Linked DNA regions of Homo sapiens: region 2 is linked to region 1. The links come from fine-mapping of genetic effects on gene expression. Tissue or cell type: whole blood. Region 1 holds a variant in brackets; the other region holds the start of a gene. All regions are shown on one strand. Distances are from middle to middle.

Region 1 (5,000 bases):
TATTCTTAGCAGACCAAAGGGAGAGAAAGAGCAAGTTACTGCAGGACTCACACAGGCATGAAGAAGTGATGCTGTGAGCAGGCGACAGGGTGTCATGAGAAATTAGGTAGGCAAGATGACATAGAGGGATTGATGGGACCCTTCACGGCCACAGTGAGGACTCAGCATCAAAACAGGCAGCAGGGATATGCCACAAATTCCTGGGAAAGGATATCTATCGATTAAGTTGCTTTGGTTGCAAGCAACAGAAGCTAATGATGGTCGAGTTAAGAAAAACGTGAAATTGTTTTAAGAAGATATGGTAGCTCACAGACATGGAAGATGCTGAAACACATAAACTAGAGGCGCCTCAGGGATCTGGGCTCGGGCACTGAATGCAGTCTCTTCACGGCGCTGCTGTGCAATGAATGAACACAAATAATCTTCAGTCTTTATATTGGCTGATTCAAAATGTGCAGTCCCAGAGAACATCTAATTGGTCTGTCAGGGTTAGAATAAGCCCATCCTGATGGCAGGCACTGGGAGTCGGGGAGAGGCAGTTTGCCAACACCAAGTTAAGGTGCTGTTGCCAGAGTGATGACAAATGGATCCTGTGCACAGGGCCGGGTGCAATGACAAAGGAACTGAACCGAGATGACACTTAGCAGCAACACGAACACGGACCAGCAGGAGAAGGAAGAGGCAGGCAGGTTGAGCGGCATCTGCAGGAATCTGGGAACAAGCTGGGGAGGGTACACATCAGAAGCCACTGGCCCAAAGACCTAGAGAGGAGGCTTAGAGGCCAGGCACAGAGCTGTGGGCTGCAGGAGCCGTCCTGTGCCAGGCATCGCGAGAGGGTAGAGTCGTCAAGAGCAGGACAGTGCAGGTGACACAGAGGCTCGGCCAAGAAGACCGAGGGAAGGGGCCCAAGAAAGAACCTTGAAACAGCTTCAAGAACCAAGAAAGTCCCGCGTCGATGGTGCCAAGGCTTAGGTCATTTCAACCCCACGGACTTAGTTCACCAGCCCATAGAGGGTCGAGTGACTTTTCCACTCCCCTGAACATCCTCAGGCTACCAGCGCAGGGGCCTACATATGGTAGCTTCTCAGTGCTTATGAAAGGGGACAAGACTGGCTGGACACGAATTCAGAAAGAAAACAGGAATTGCAGGGTCAAAGATGGCACGCTCAGTGCCTACAAGCAGTTTCACAGGGACGGCCTGGCAGAGCCCTGTCCTGCTCGGGATGGGCTGCCCTGGCCCCGCCCTCACTCACCTACGGTGGGTATTGGGTGTTGGGGATGGGCTGCCCTGGCCCCGCCCTCACTCACCTACAGCGGTGTTGACGGCGATCTCCTCCAGCAAGGCCTCGCAGGCGGCGGACTTCTCCGCCAGCACGATCTTCTGCTCGGCCAGCTTCTGGTTCAGCTCGTCCAGCTGGATGGTGGCCTCCTTCAGCTTGTCCAGTCCCCCATCCAGACGCTTGCACTGAGCTGAGGAAAGAGGGCACCTATGTTCATCGTCGAGGTGGCCACTGTTCGCAACACAATCACTGAGATTTGCCTAACTTCAGCTTATCAAAAACAAAACAAAACATTTTTACAAGATGGCACATGTCTTTCAGTACCTCCACTGCCATACTTGGGACAGCATCAGCCAAAATGAATGTATTTCTGAAGACAGTGCTTCCCTTGGCCAACAGCCAGAGCACTTTTTAAAAAGCCCTGTCCGGCAGTGCATGCTGCTGCAGCAGATAGTTGTCTCTAATGTGCGCCAGGCATGGTGGCTGCACCTGTGGTCCCAGCTACTCAGGAGGCTGAGGCGGGAGGAGCACGTGAACCCAGGAGGTCGAGGCTGCAGTGAGCCATGGTTGCACCACTGCACTCCAGCCTGGGAAACAGAGACCCTATCCCTAAGATAAAAAATAAAATTTAAAAATTGCTAATGTGATCAAAATGTAAAGCTTCAAAGTCTAAGACTCAACACTGAGAACAAAAATAAGGACATGCCAGGGTCCTGCCCACATGAAAGAATCGCTCCAAGACACAAAATCCAAGATGTGCTTCGTTTGGCCTCAATACTGAAGATGCCCCATCTTACTAAAGAAAAGATCAGCGCTCGAATCCTTACCCATAAATAATAATGACTTTTGTCAACCACCCCATCCCCAAGGCTTACCTATATTACACTGAGTTTTCTCATCCAGCAATTTTGAATAGGTGTTAATAAAATCAAGGTAGTTCTTGGGAGTGACATAGTTGCTGCGCCTCAATTTCTGTAGAAACTGTTGGCTGTAGTGGTCCACGGATTGGTGAACCAAGACAACATGCTTCACCACATTTTCTATATTTTCTGCCGGGATCATTGGATTATACCCTGAAGAGGAAGGAATAAAAAATGTTTTCTTTCTTTTTCTTTTTCGACACAGGGTCTCACTCTGTTGCCCAGGCTGGAGTGCAGTGGCGTGATCATGGCTCACTGCAGCCTCCATCTCCTGGGCACAGGTGATCCTCCCACCTCAGCCTCCCAAGTAGCTGGGACTACAGGATGGGCCACCATGCCTGGGTAATTTTTTGTATTATTTTGTAGAGGTGAGGTTTCACCCATGTTGCCCAGGCTGGTCTTAACTCCTGAGCTAAGGCAATCGGTCCACCTCAGCCCCACAAAGTGCTGGGATTACAGGCGTGACTCACCGCACCCAGCCATGCTTGTTAAGAAAGGAAAACAGGGATTCTTCAAAGAGTTAAATATAGAACTATTATATGACTCAACAATTCCACTCCTAGGTATATACCCCAAAGAACTGAAAAGCAGGGACTCAAATGAATTCTTGTATGCCAATGTTTACTGTAGACTATCACAATAAGCAAAAGGTGGAAAGACCCAAGCGTCCAGCAACGGAGGAATGGATGAACAAAATGTGTCCTATCTATACCGGGGATAGTATTCACTTGTAAAAAGGAATGAAGTTCCGATGCTGAAACACGGATGAGCCTCAAAAACATGATGCTAAGTGAAAGACGCCAGACACCAAAGGACAAACATTGCATGATTCCACTTATACGAACCCTCTCTAGAACAGGCAAATTCATACAGACAGAACA[C/T]AGATTCGAGGTTGCCAGGGGCTGGAGGGAGGGGCGATGGGGAGTTCGTGTTTAACGGGTATGGAGTTTCAGTTTGGGATGATGAAAAGTTTTGGCAACAGACAGTGGTGTTGGTTTCACAACATTACGAATGTGATTAGTGCCACATGTACATTTCAAAATGCTTAAAATGGAAAATGTTATGTTACATATATTTTACTACAATAAAAAAATGATGTTAAAGTTTTTAATAGGACAAGAAAAGAATGGCTATCACTTATTGGTGGCTTTTCAGGGCCACAGCAGTGATCCGTGCTAATCCTTCTTTTTTTTTTTTTTTTTTCTTGAGACAGGGTCTCACTCTGTTACCTAATTCCTTCCCTACTGTTAGGAAGCCCTGTCTTCCCTAAAGGCCAAGACACCGTGGCAGAAGGGCCTTGGGTTTTCAGAAGCGATCACCACGTCTAACTCTGCCCTGTTGCTCCCCTCGCCCGCCCGAGGACTGGGTGGGCTTATTCGGTTACCCACCGCTGGATGACACCCAGCACATATCGGCAAAGGTGGGCCTTCCTATACACCCGCTGAAAGAATGAATGATGGCTTCCAGTGTCAAGATCACATCACCTGGATTATCTGATAGGTTGTTAAATGCATTCAGCTCAAAGCAGAGAATGTCTCATATTAAAATGGAGGAAGGAAAGACAGATTGAAAGTACCGATTAATCCAGATTCTGCAGAGCTGGTCCTGAGTTACTCCGGGGTTAGCAAAACACAGCCCCAGGGCCCATTTTACAGTGTGCAGGAAAAACGGTGCCTCACAAATATCTGTGCCTTTGGGCATAGTCATCTCAATTCCAGGGAATATATTCTCTCTCTCTCTCTCTCTCTCTCTCTCTCTCTCTCTCTCTCTCTCTGTGTGTGTGTGTGTGTGTGTGTGTGTGTGTGTGTGTGAGATAAAGTCTCACTGTGCCTCCCAGGATGGAGAGCAGTGGCACAAACTCGGCTCACTGCAACCTCTGCCTCCTGGGCTCAAGCAATTCTCATGGCTCAGCCTCCTGAGTAGCTGGGATTACAGGTGCCCACCACCACACCCAGCTAATTTTTGTATTTTTAGTAAATACAGGGTTTCACCATTTTGCCCAGGCTGGTCTCGAACTCCTGGGCTCAAGTGATCCACCCGCCTCAGCCTCCCAAAGTGCTGGGATTACAGGTGTGAGCCACTGCGCCTGGCCTCCAGGGAGTATATTCTAAGGACAAAAAAGTTCTAAGCAAATTCTAGGCAGCATTATTTATGATGCTGAATCACTGAATACTGAAAGCAAACACAAGCACTTCACACATGGAAACGGCAAATACGCCTCTGAGAACAAGGGGACATCTATATTGGGGCTGGCCAACTACGGGCCAAAGGACAAATCCAGCCCGCCCCCTGTTTTTGTAAATAAAGTGTTATTGGATCACAGCCATAGCGATTCATTTACGTATTGTCTATGACTGCTTTCATGATAAAATGGCAGAATTGAGTAGTTGCGAAAAAGCTGTAAATATTTACCATCTGGACCTGAGATATATCATCAGAAAAGAGTCATTCTCTTGGCCCCTTTTCCCCCAAAACTGCATTATGATTAAAGTTATGATTTCTTCTTACATATAGGAACATTTATTTATTTATTATTGAGTACAGATTTAGAAGGTTGAAACTATTTTCAAGGTTACCCAGTGTCATTCATCATAAATCTGCTCAAGTTAGGTCAAAAGAAAAAGATGTTCCCTGAAGACAGACTTCCTTTCTTATTCAAACATTAAAATTAATATCCAAGGCCTTAGGTGTTTGAAACGCTAGAAATTCAATGAGAATGCAGAATGTTTGCTGAATTGTCCTTGGAGCATTCTTTGGATAGAGGCCAGCACATGTTTTCTACAAAGAGCCGAACAGTACT
Region 2 (5,802 bases), 140 kb after region 1:
ACGTGATCACGTGGTCCTCTCTCCAGATGGCACTAGGGATTTGTTATTGTTGTTTATTTATGGTTTTGGATTTATGATGAAGGCGTTTTATTTTGTGCAAGCAAATAATGAATATTTAAAATAAATGAAGGTGGCCAAGCGCGATGGTTCACACCTGTAATCCCAGCACTTCGGGAGGCCGAGGTGGGCAGATCACTTTAGGTCAGGAGTTCAAGAGCAGCCCGGCCAACATGGTGAAACCCTGTCTCTACTAGAAATACAAAAATCAGCCAGGCATGGTGATGGGTGCCTGTAATCCCAGCTACTTGGGAGGCTGAGTCAGGAGAATTGCTTGAACCAGGGAGGTGGAGGTTGCAGTGAGCCGAGATTGCACCACTGCACTCCAGCCTTGGCGACAGAGCTAGACTCTGTCTCAAAAAAAAAAAAAAGAAGTGGCCAGGTGCCAGATGGCTAACACCTGGAATCCCAGCACTTTGGGAGGCCGAGGCGGGAGGATCACTTGACCTCAGTAGTTTGAGACCACCCTGGGCAACATGGTGAAACCTGTCTCTACCAAAAATATAAAAATTAGCCAGGCATGGTGACGCATACCTGTAGTCCCAGCTACTCAGGAAGCTGAGGTGGGAGAATCACTTGAGCCCTGGAGGCAGAGGTTGCAGTGAGTCAAGATCGCACCACTGCACTCCAGCCTGGGTGACAAAGTGAGACCCTATCTCAAAAAAAAAAAAAAAAAAGTTAAAAAATAGAATACAATAAATGAATCTGCCTGGTACCTTTAAAAAAAAAATCAAAGGTCTGCCGGCCCTGCCACCCGAACCCAGTGAGAGGCCCTGCAAGGGATCCCCAAGTCCTTAAGGGGCTGGAAAAGTAGCCCAGGAGACTGGACAGCCAGGCAGGAGGTCCCGGTAGCTGTGCTCCAGCTGGTGCTCCTGCGAGGAGGCGGCTTTCGAGGTCCCAGTCTCCTTCTAGCTGTTTCTGAAGCGAGTTGTCCTGCCTCCTCCTCTCACCTGTGCTGGCCCCTCCCTGCCCTCTCAGTGTCCCTGGCCTATCAGAGAGTAGGTGGGGCTGGGGATCCGCCTCCACAGAGGGTTCTGGGACCCTGGTCACTGTCTTTTTGTATTTGCGATGCTAATTTGTTCAACATAAACATTTAAAGTCTACTGTAGTTTTTAAACTTTGTCCTAGCCTTATTTTACTTTTTAGGATATAAGGAGCCTCCAGAAGTAGAAAGGGGTGCTCTTCGGACCCTCCGTGAGAGGCTGCGACCGTCAAGGAGAGTGACAGTGACCTGGGTCCCTGCCACACCTGGGCATGGCTCTACCCAGCCGTTCGGATTATTGCACAGTGGATCTTGACGCCCCGTGGGCCTTGGGCAGGTTACTTAACCCCCTCCGTGCCAGTTTGCTCATCTGTAAAATAGGGATGAGGATACACCCGCCTCGTAGGGTTAAGGAGTTGATACAAGCGTTGGAACCGCACCTGGCACGGGGTGCGGGCTAAGTCAGTGTTTGCTGTGATTTTTCAATCAAGGCCTGACTTTCAAGTGGGCTGTGGGCCCAGGAGGGCAGGGACGGCTGTGATTGCTGGGTTCGCCCGGGGCCTGCACGTGGCGGGCGGCAGCGTTTGTGGACAGCACCTGAGGCCGGGGCCGGACGATGGGCAGGCTCTAGCAGCCCCGGCGCCCGCCGGAGAGGCCGGGACGGGCAGGAGGGAAGCCCGGGGAAGGGAGCGGCGCGTCGAGGCTCACCAATCTCCACCTCCACCTCCTCCGGCACCATAGTGCGGTAGATGAAGAGCGCCGAGGGCCCCTCCTCCTCGCTCGCCTGGTTGAGGAAGTGCAAGATGAGGTCCTCGCCCTGGCCGTCGTCGCGGTTGAGCAGGTCCTCGAAAAGCTGGGGGTCGGTGATGCCGAAAGCCGCATACACGCGGTCGCGCATCCACAGCACCCGCAGGTCGTCCATGGCGCCGCGCAGTGCAGAGGGAGCCGGGCGCAGGGCGGGCGTCCGTGGCAACGGCGGCCCTAGCAATGGGCGCCCCGGAAACGGCCGCAGCTCGCCCCGCCGACGGCGCCGGCGCTGGGGGCTGCAAGCTCGGCAGTGCCCCGCGCCCGGCCCCTCGATCCCGAACCCGCGAGCCGCAGCCCACGCCCCGGCCCCGGGATCTCGGAGGCGCGCACCAGGCCCCCGGGCCGCCGAGGTAGGCTGGTTGCTCCCTGGCCCCGGCAGCGCGCACGCCCCTGGATGCGGAGCGGGACCCTCGCCGCCAGGAGCCGCCCTCGGGCCGCTGCAGCCGAGGGTGCGACCCCACCCCACGCCGACCGGTTTGCAAGCAGCCCGCCCACCTTGCAGATGAAGCTGGGGCTAGAGAGTTGGCGAGACGAAGGTCACAGCACCTCGGCGGTGGCAGAGGCGGGATTAGAGGCCAGACGAGGAGGAAATAAGCCGAGAAAGCACGAGTTCCTCATGGCCTACAAAATCAGGGAAGGAGCAGAGTTCTTTAGCTTTCTTGCCAAACTAGAGCATAATAAAGCAAAACACCCACGTTTAAAAATATAGATATATTTATTTGTCATTAGCAAAAGGAAGTTAAATACTGATAGAAGATGCAAATTTGTCCTTTCATGCATTTGTGGAGCAAAGTACTAACTTGTTCACTGTCATTTCCCCTCACAAGGAGTTGAGCCCCTAGATGACTCAGGCTAACCCTAAGAACCTACCTAGCCTTCTTAGATATTCCCATCAAAGAACAGGTGGAGTGTACTAAGTATTTCTGAAAATTCTAAACCAAATCAGCAAAAATGGCCTGACTGTGGGAAGACTGTTCGTTCAAACTGCCTTATTCCCATCATCTTGATTTGACAGCTTCATAATAACCTTCCTGGATATATTCCCTGTGGCACGCAAGCAAACCCGGCTTTACGTTTTTAATAGAGGAATTTATTGTTTTAAATGCGGACTGTAGAATAGGTGTAGAAGTTGTTTTTCTTTTCCAAAATGTATCAGGCTCTAAAACGTCTGAATATGTAATTCATGGACATCGTAAGGCTGACCTATGCTACAGGTATTCTGTGCCTTATTAAACAACTGCAGAGGGCCAGGCGCGGTGGCTCACGCCTGTAATCCCAGCACTTTGGGAGGCCAAGGTGGGTAGATCACCTGAGGTCAGGAGTTTGAGACCAGCCTGGCCAACATGGTGAAACCCTGTCTCTACTAAAAATACAAAAATTAGCCGGGCACTGTGGCAGGCGCCTGTAATCCCAGCTACTCGGGAGGCTAGGGCAGGAGAATTGCTTAAACCCAGGAGGCAGAGGTTGCAGTGAGCCGAGACTGCACCACTGCACTTCAGCCTAGGTGACAGAGTGAGACACTGTCTCAAAAAAAATAAAAAAATTTTTAAATAAACAACTGCTGAGGGGATGCTGACACCAGAATGTTGTTATAAAATATCCATTCCAGAAACAGAGCAGCATTCAGCGAAAGAGGAGTTCCAAGTCCTTTCGCTGCTGGAAAGTCCGCAGGGCTCACCCAGATCCTATCAGACAGAACACCCTTTGCACTCCTTAACTGACCACGGCAATTACAGTCTCCAGCCCAGCAGGTTGAATCAAAGTCTAGTTTACTGAAGAAATCCCTTGGGTTTTAAGATTCTGTTAACACATGGTAATAAACATCTAAATAAAAACTGAGAAATGTCGTGTCGTGACATTTATCTTTAGGAAAATAAACATATTCAGTATCATCCACACAACTTGCCATCTGTGCTCTGGATCTCTGCTATCAAGGGAATGAAGTATGTTTTAAAAACTGGATACATAATAGGTTCTAGCAAAAGCCTTAACAAACAAAACTGAGCGATAACTCTGGTAACATGACACTGGAGCCCATCGCTTTATAGAGAAACAAATTCCCGTGGCCCCTATAAGACACTATTATCAAACTACATTTCCAGAGAGCGCTTTCCCAGAGTTAGGATTCTGAATTCGCTTTTCATATAATGACATTCTACATAAATACTACATAGATTTCAACAGAGAAATGACTGCATCCTCTGCTCTATGCTGAGAAGAGGTGTTAATTAGAAAGAGTTAAAAAAGTGGCCCCATGAGAATTACTAGTGGGGAGCAGTAAACAATTCCCGTGAATATCGTGTCCCTTATTTACCAATCAGCTAACAGTGCCCTGAAGTCTTGGGCTTCCTAGGGATGAAGTAGTTACCATTGTTTTTATGACAGACCCCTGGAGCAAAGTAACACAAATGTCCCCTTGTGGAAGCATCAGCTCTAGGTGAAAGCAACTCTGAGACCTGACCAGCACTGCTGGGATGTCATAGTCACCCAACACAAGTGCCCGACATGACACCTTTCTAGGGAAGCATAACTTTGAGAGCAGAATCATTTTCAAGCATTTCATCGGCATCATTTGATAATTTAATATGAGGGACAAAAAGCAGTAAGTCCAAACTGGCCTTGGGTAACATCTCATCAAGTAGCACACAGAATCTGTACTGTAATTGAAAGGGTTTAATTGTAAGTCACGGCTGTGTCAACGCTGTTCAGCTCATGCCTTGAAATCAGCTGCACAGCCACGTTAAACTCAGCACCTCCAGACTCTCAGCTTGTAACAGAAGTGCCAAGCTCTCTACCTCGAAACAGGATAGAGGAGGATGCGGGCAAATAGCCTTTTAACGTGTATCACTCACAATGTCAAGAAGGTGAAAAAAAGTCAGGTTTCTTTTTGAAAATAATTGTCTAAAATCAAACTAAAATATGAAAAATTAACATAATTTGCAAGAATATAGGTCAAAATGTTCAATAGGACTGACTCAAGTTCACAAAAAACCAAATGTCAAACAGATGAATTTAAACTAAAGATTATAAAACAATGGCTATTAAGAATTAGTTTTCAACTGATCTAAACAGTGTTTGAAAGTTTAAATTAACTCAATACTTTTATCAGAACTTTAGCTAGAAACAGTCTGAAAGTAAAAAAAGTATCATTAGACTGTTCTCAAGGATAAGTGCAATCTCTTCATGGTAAAATATCTTCATTTATATTTAGACTGTTCTCAAGGATAAGTGCAATCTCTTCATGGTAAAATATCTTCATTTATATTTTGTTACAAAAATATACAAAATACTACTTTTTACCTTTCCTTCACTCAGTATAAACCCTTCTGGTTCAGTGACATCAGCCAAGCTGTCACTAAATTCAAATCATGTCCGCATTATATCTTCTACAGTCACACTGGGTTTTAAGGCTCAGCATACAATTTATCTTCCAAACATACAATTATCATAACTGGTTTTATGTAAGGGTAACAGGATAAGAGTCTTTAAAAAAATATACAAGTGGGATAACCATTTGTTGTATGTCATTTTATCCCATTGTCCCCAATTACTAAAACAAGACAAAATTGTAAAAACAATCCTCTACTTGTAATTCTAGGTAGCACAGGATAAAAAATATTTGCATATTTTGGCCAGGCATGGTGGCTCACGCCTGTAATCCCAGCACTTAGGGAGGCCGAGGCAGGTGGATCACTTGAGGTCAGAAGTTCGAGACCAGCCTGGCCAACATGGTGAAACCCCATCTCTACAAAAATACAAAAAAATTAGCTGGTCACGGTGGCGCATGCCTGTAATCCCAGTTACTCGGGAGGCTGAGACAGGAGAATCACCTGAATCCAGGAGGCGGAAGTTGCAATGAGACACGATCGTGCCATTGCACTCCAGCCTACGTGACACAGCAAGACTTCATCTCAAAAAAAAAAAAAAAGTACATATTTTTAAATCCAGCAGAATAA

The links. PIP is the estimated chance that this variant, and not a neighbour inherited with it, causes the effect.
Region 2: it holds the start of DNAH10, and the variant in region 1 is fine-mapped to the expression of DNAH10 in whole blood (TOPMed, PIP 0.96).

Annotation. Positions count from the first base shown.
Region 1 is chr12:123,895,123-123,900,122 of GRCh38, reverse strand. It overlaps DNAH10 (dynein axonemal heavy chain 10), which reads right to left. Exons shown (of 79, transcript NM_001372106.1): 55 at 2,156-2,353; 56 at 1,309-1,470. Among named protein-coding and RNA genes, the nearest start is that of DNAH10OS, 37 kb to the left of the region's middle. RefSeq lists an enhancer at 797-1,297. The variant C/T (reference allele first, on the strand shown) is at 3,082.
Region 2 is chr12:123,758,496-123,764,297 of GRCh38, reverse strand. It overlaps DNAH10 (dynein axonemal heavy chain 10), which reads right to left and starts at 1,997. Exons shown (of 79, transcript NM_001372106.1): 1 at 1,748-1,997. The coding sequence starts at 1,961. ATP6V0A2 (ATPase H+ transporting V0 subunit a2) reads right to left here. Exons shown (of 20, transcript NM_012463.4): 20 at 2,543-5,802. RefSeq lists a silencer at 1,997-2,416.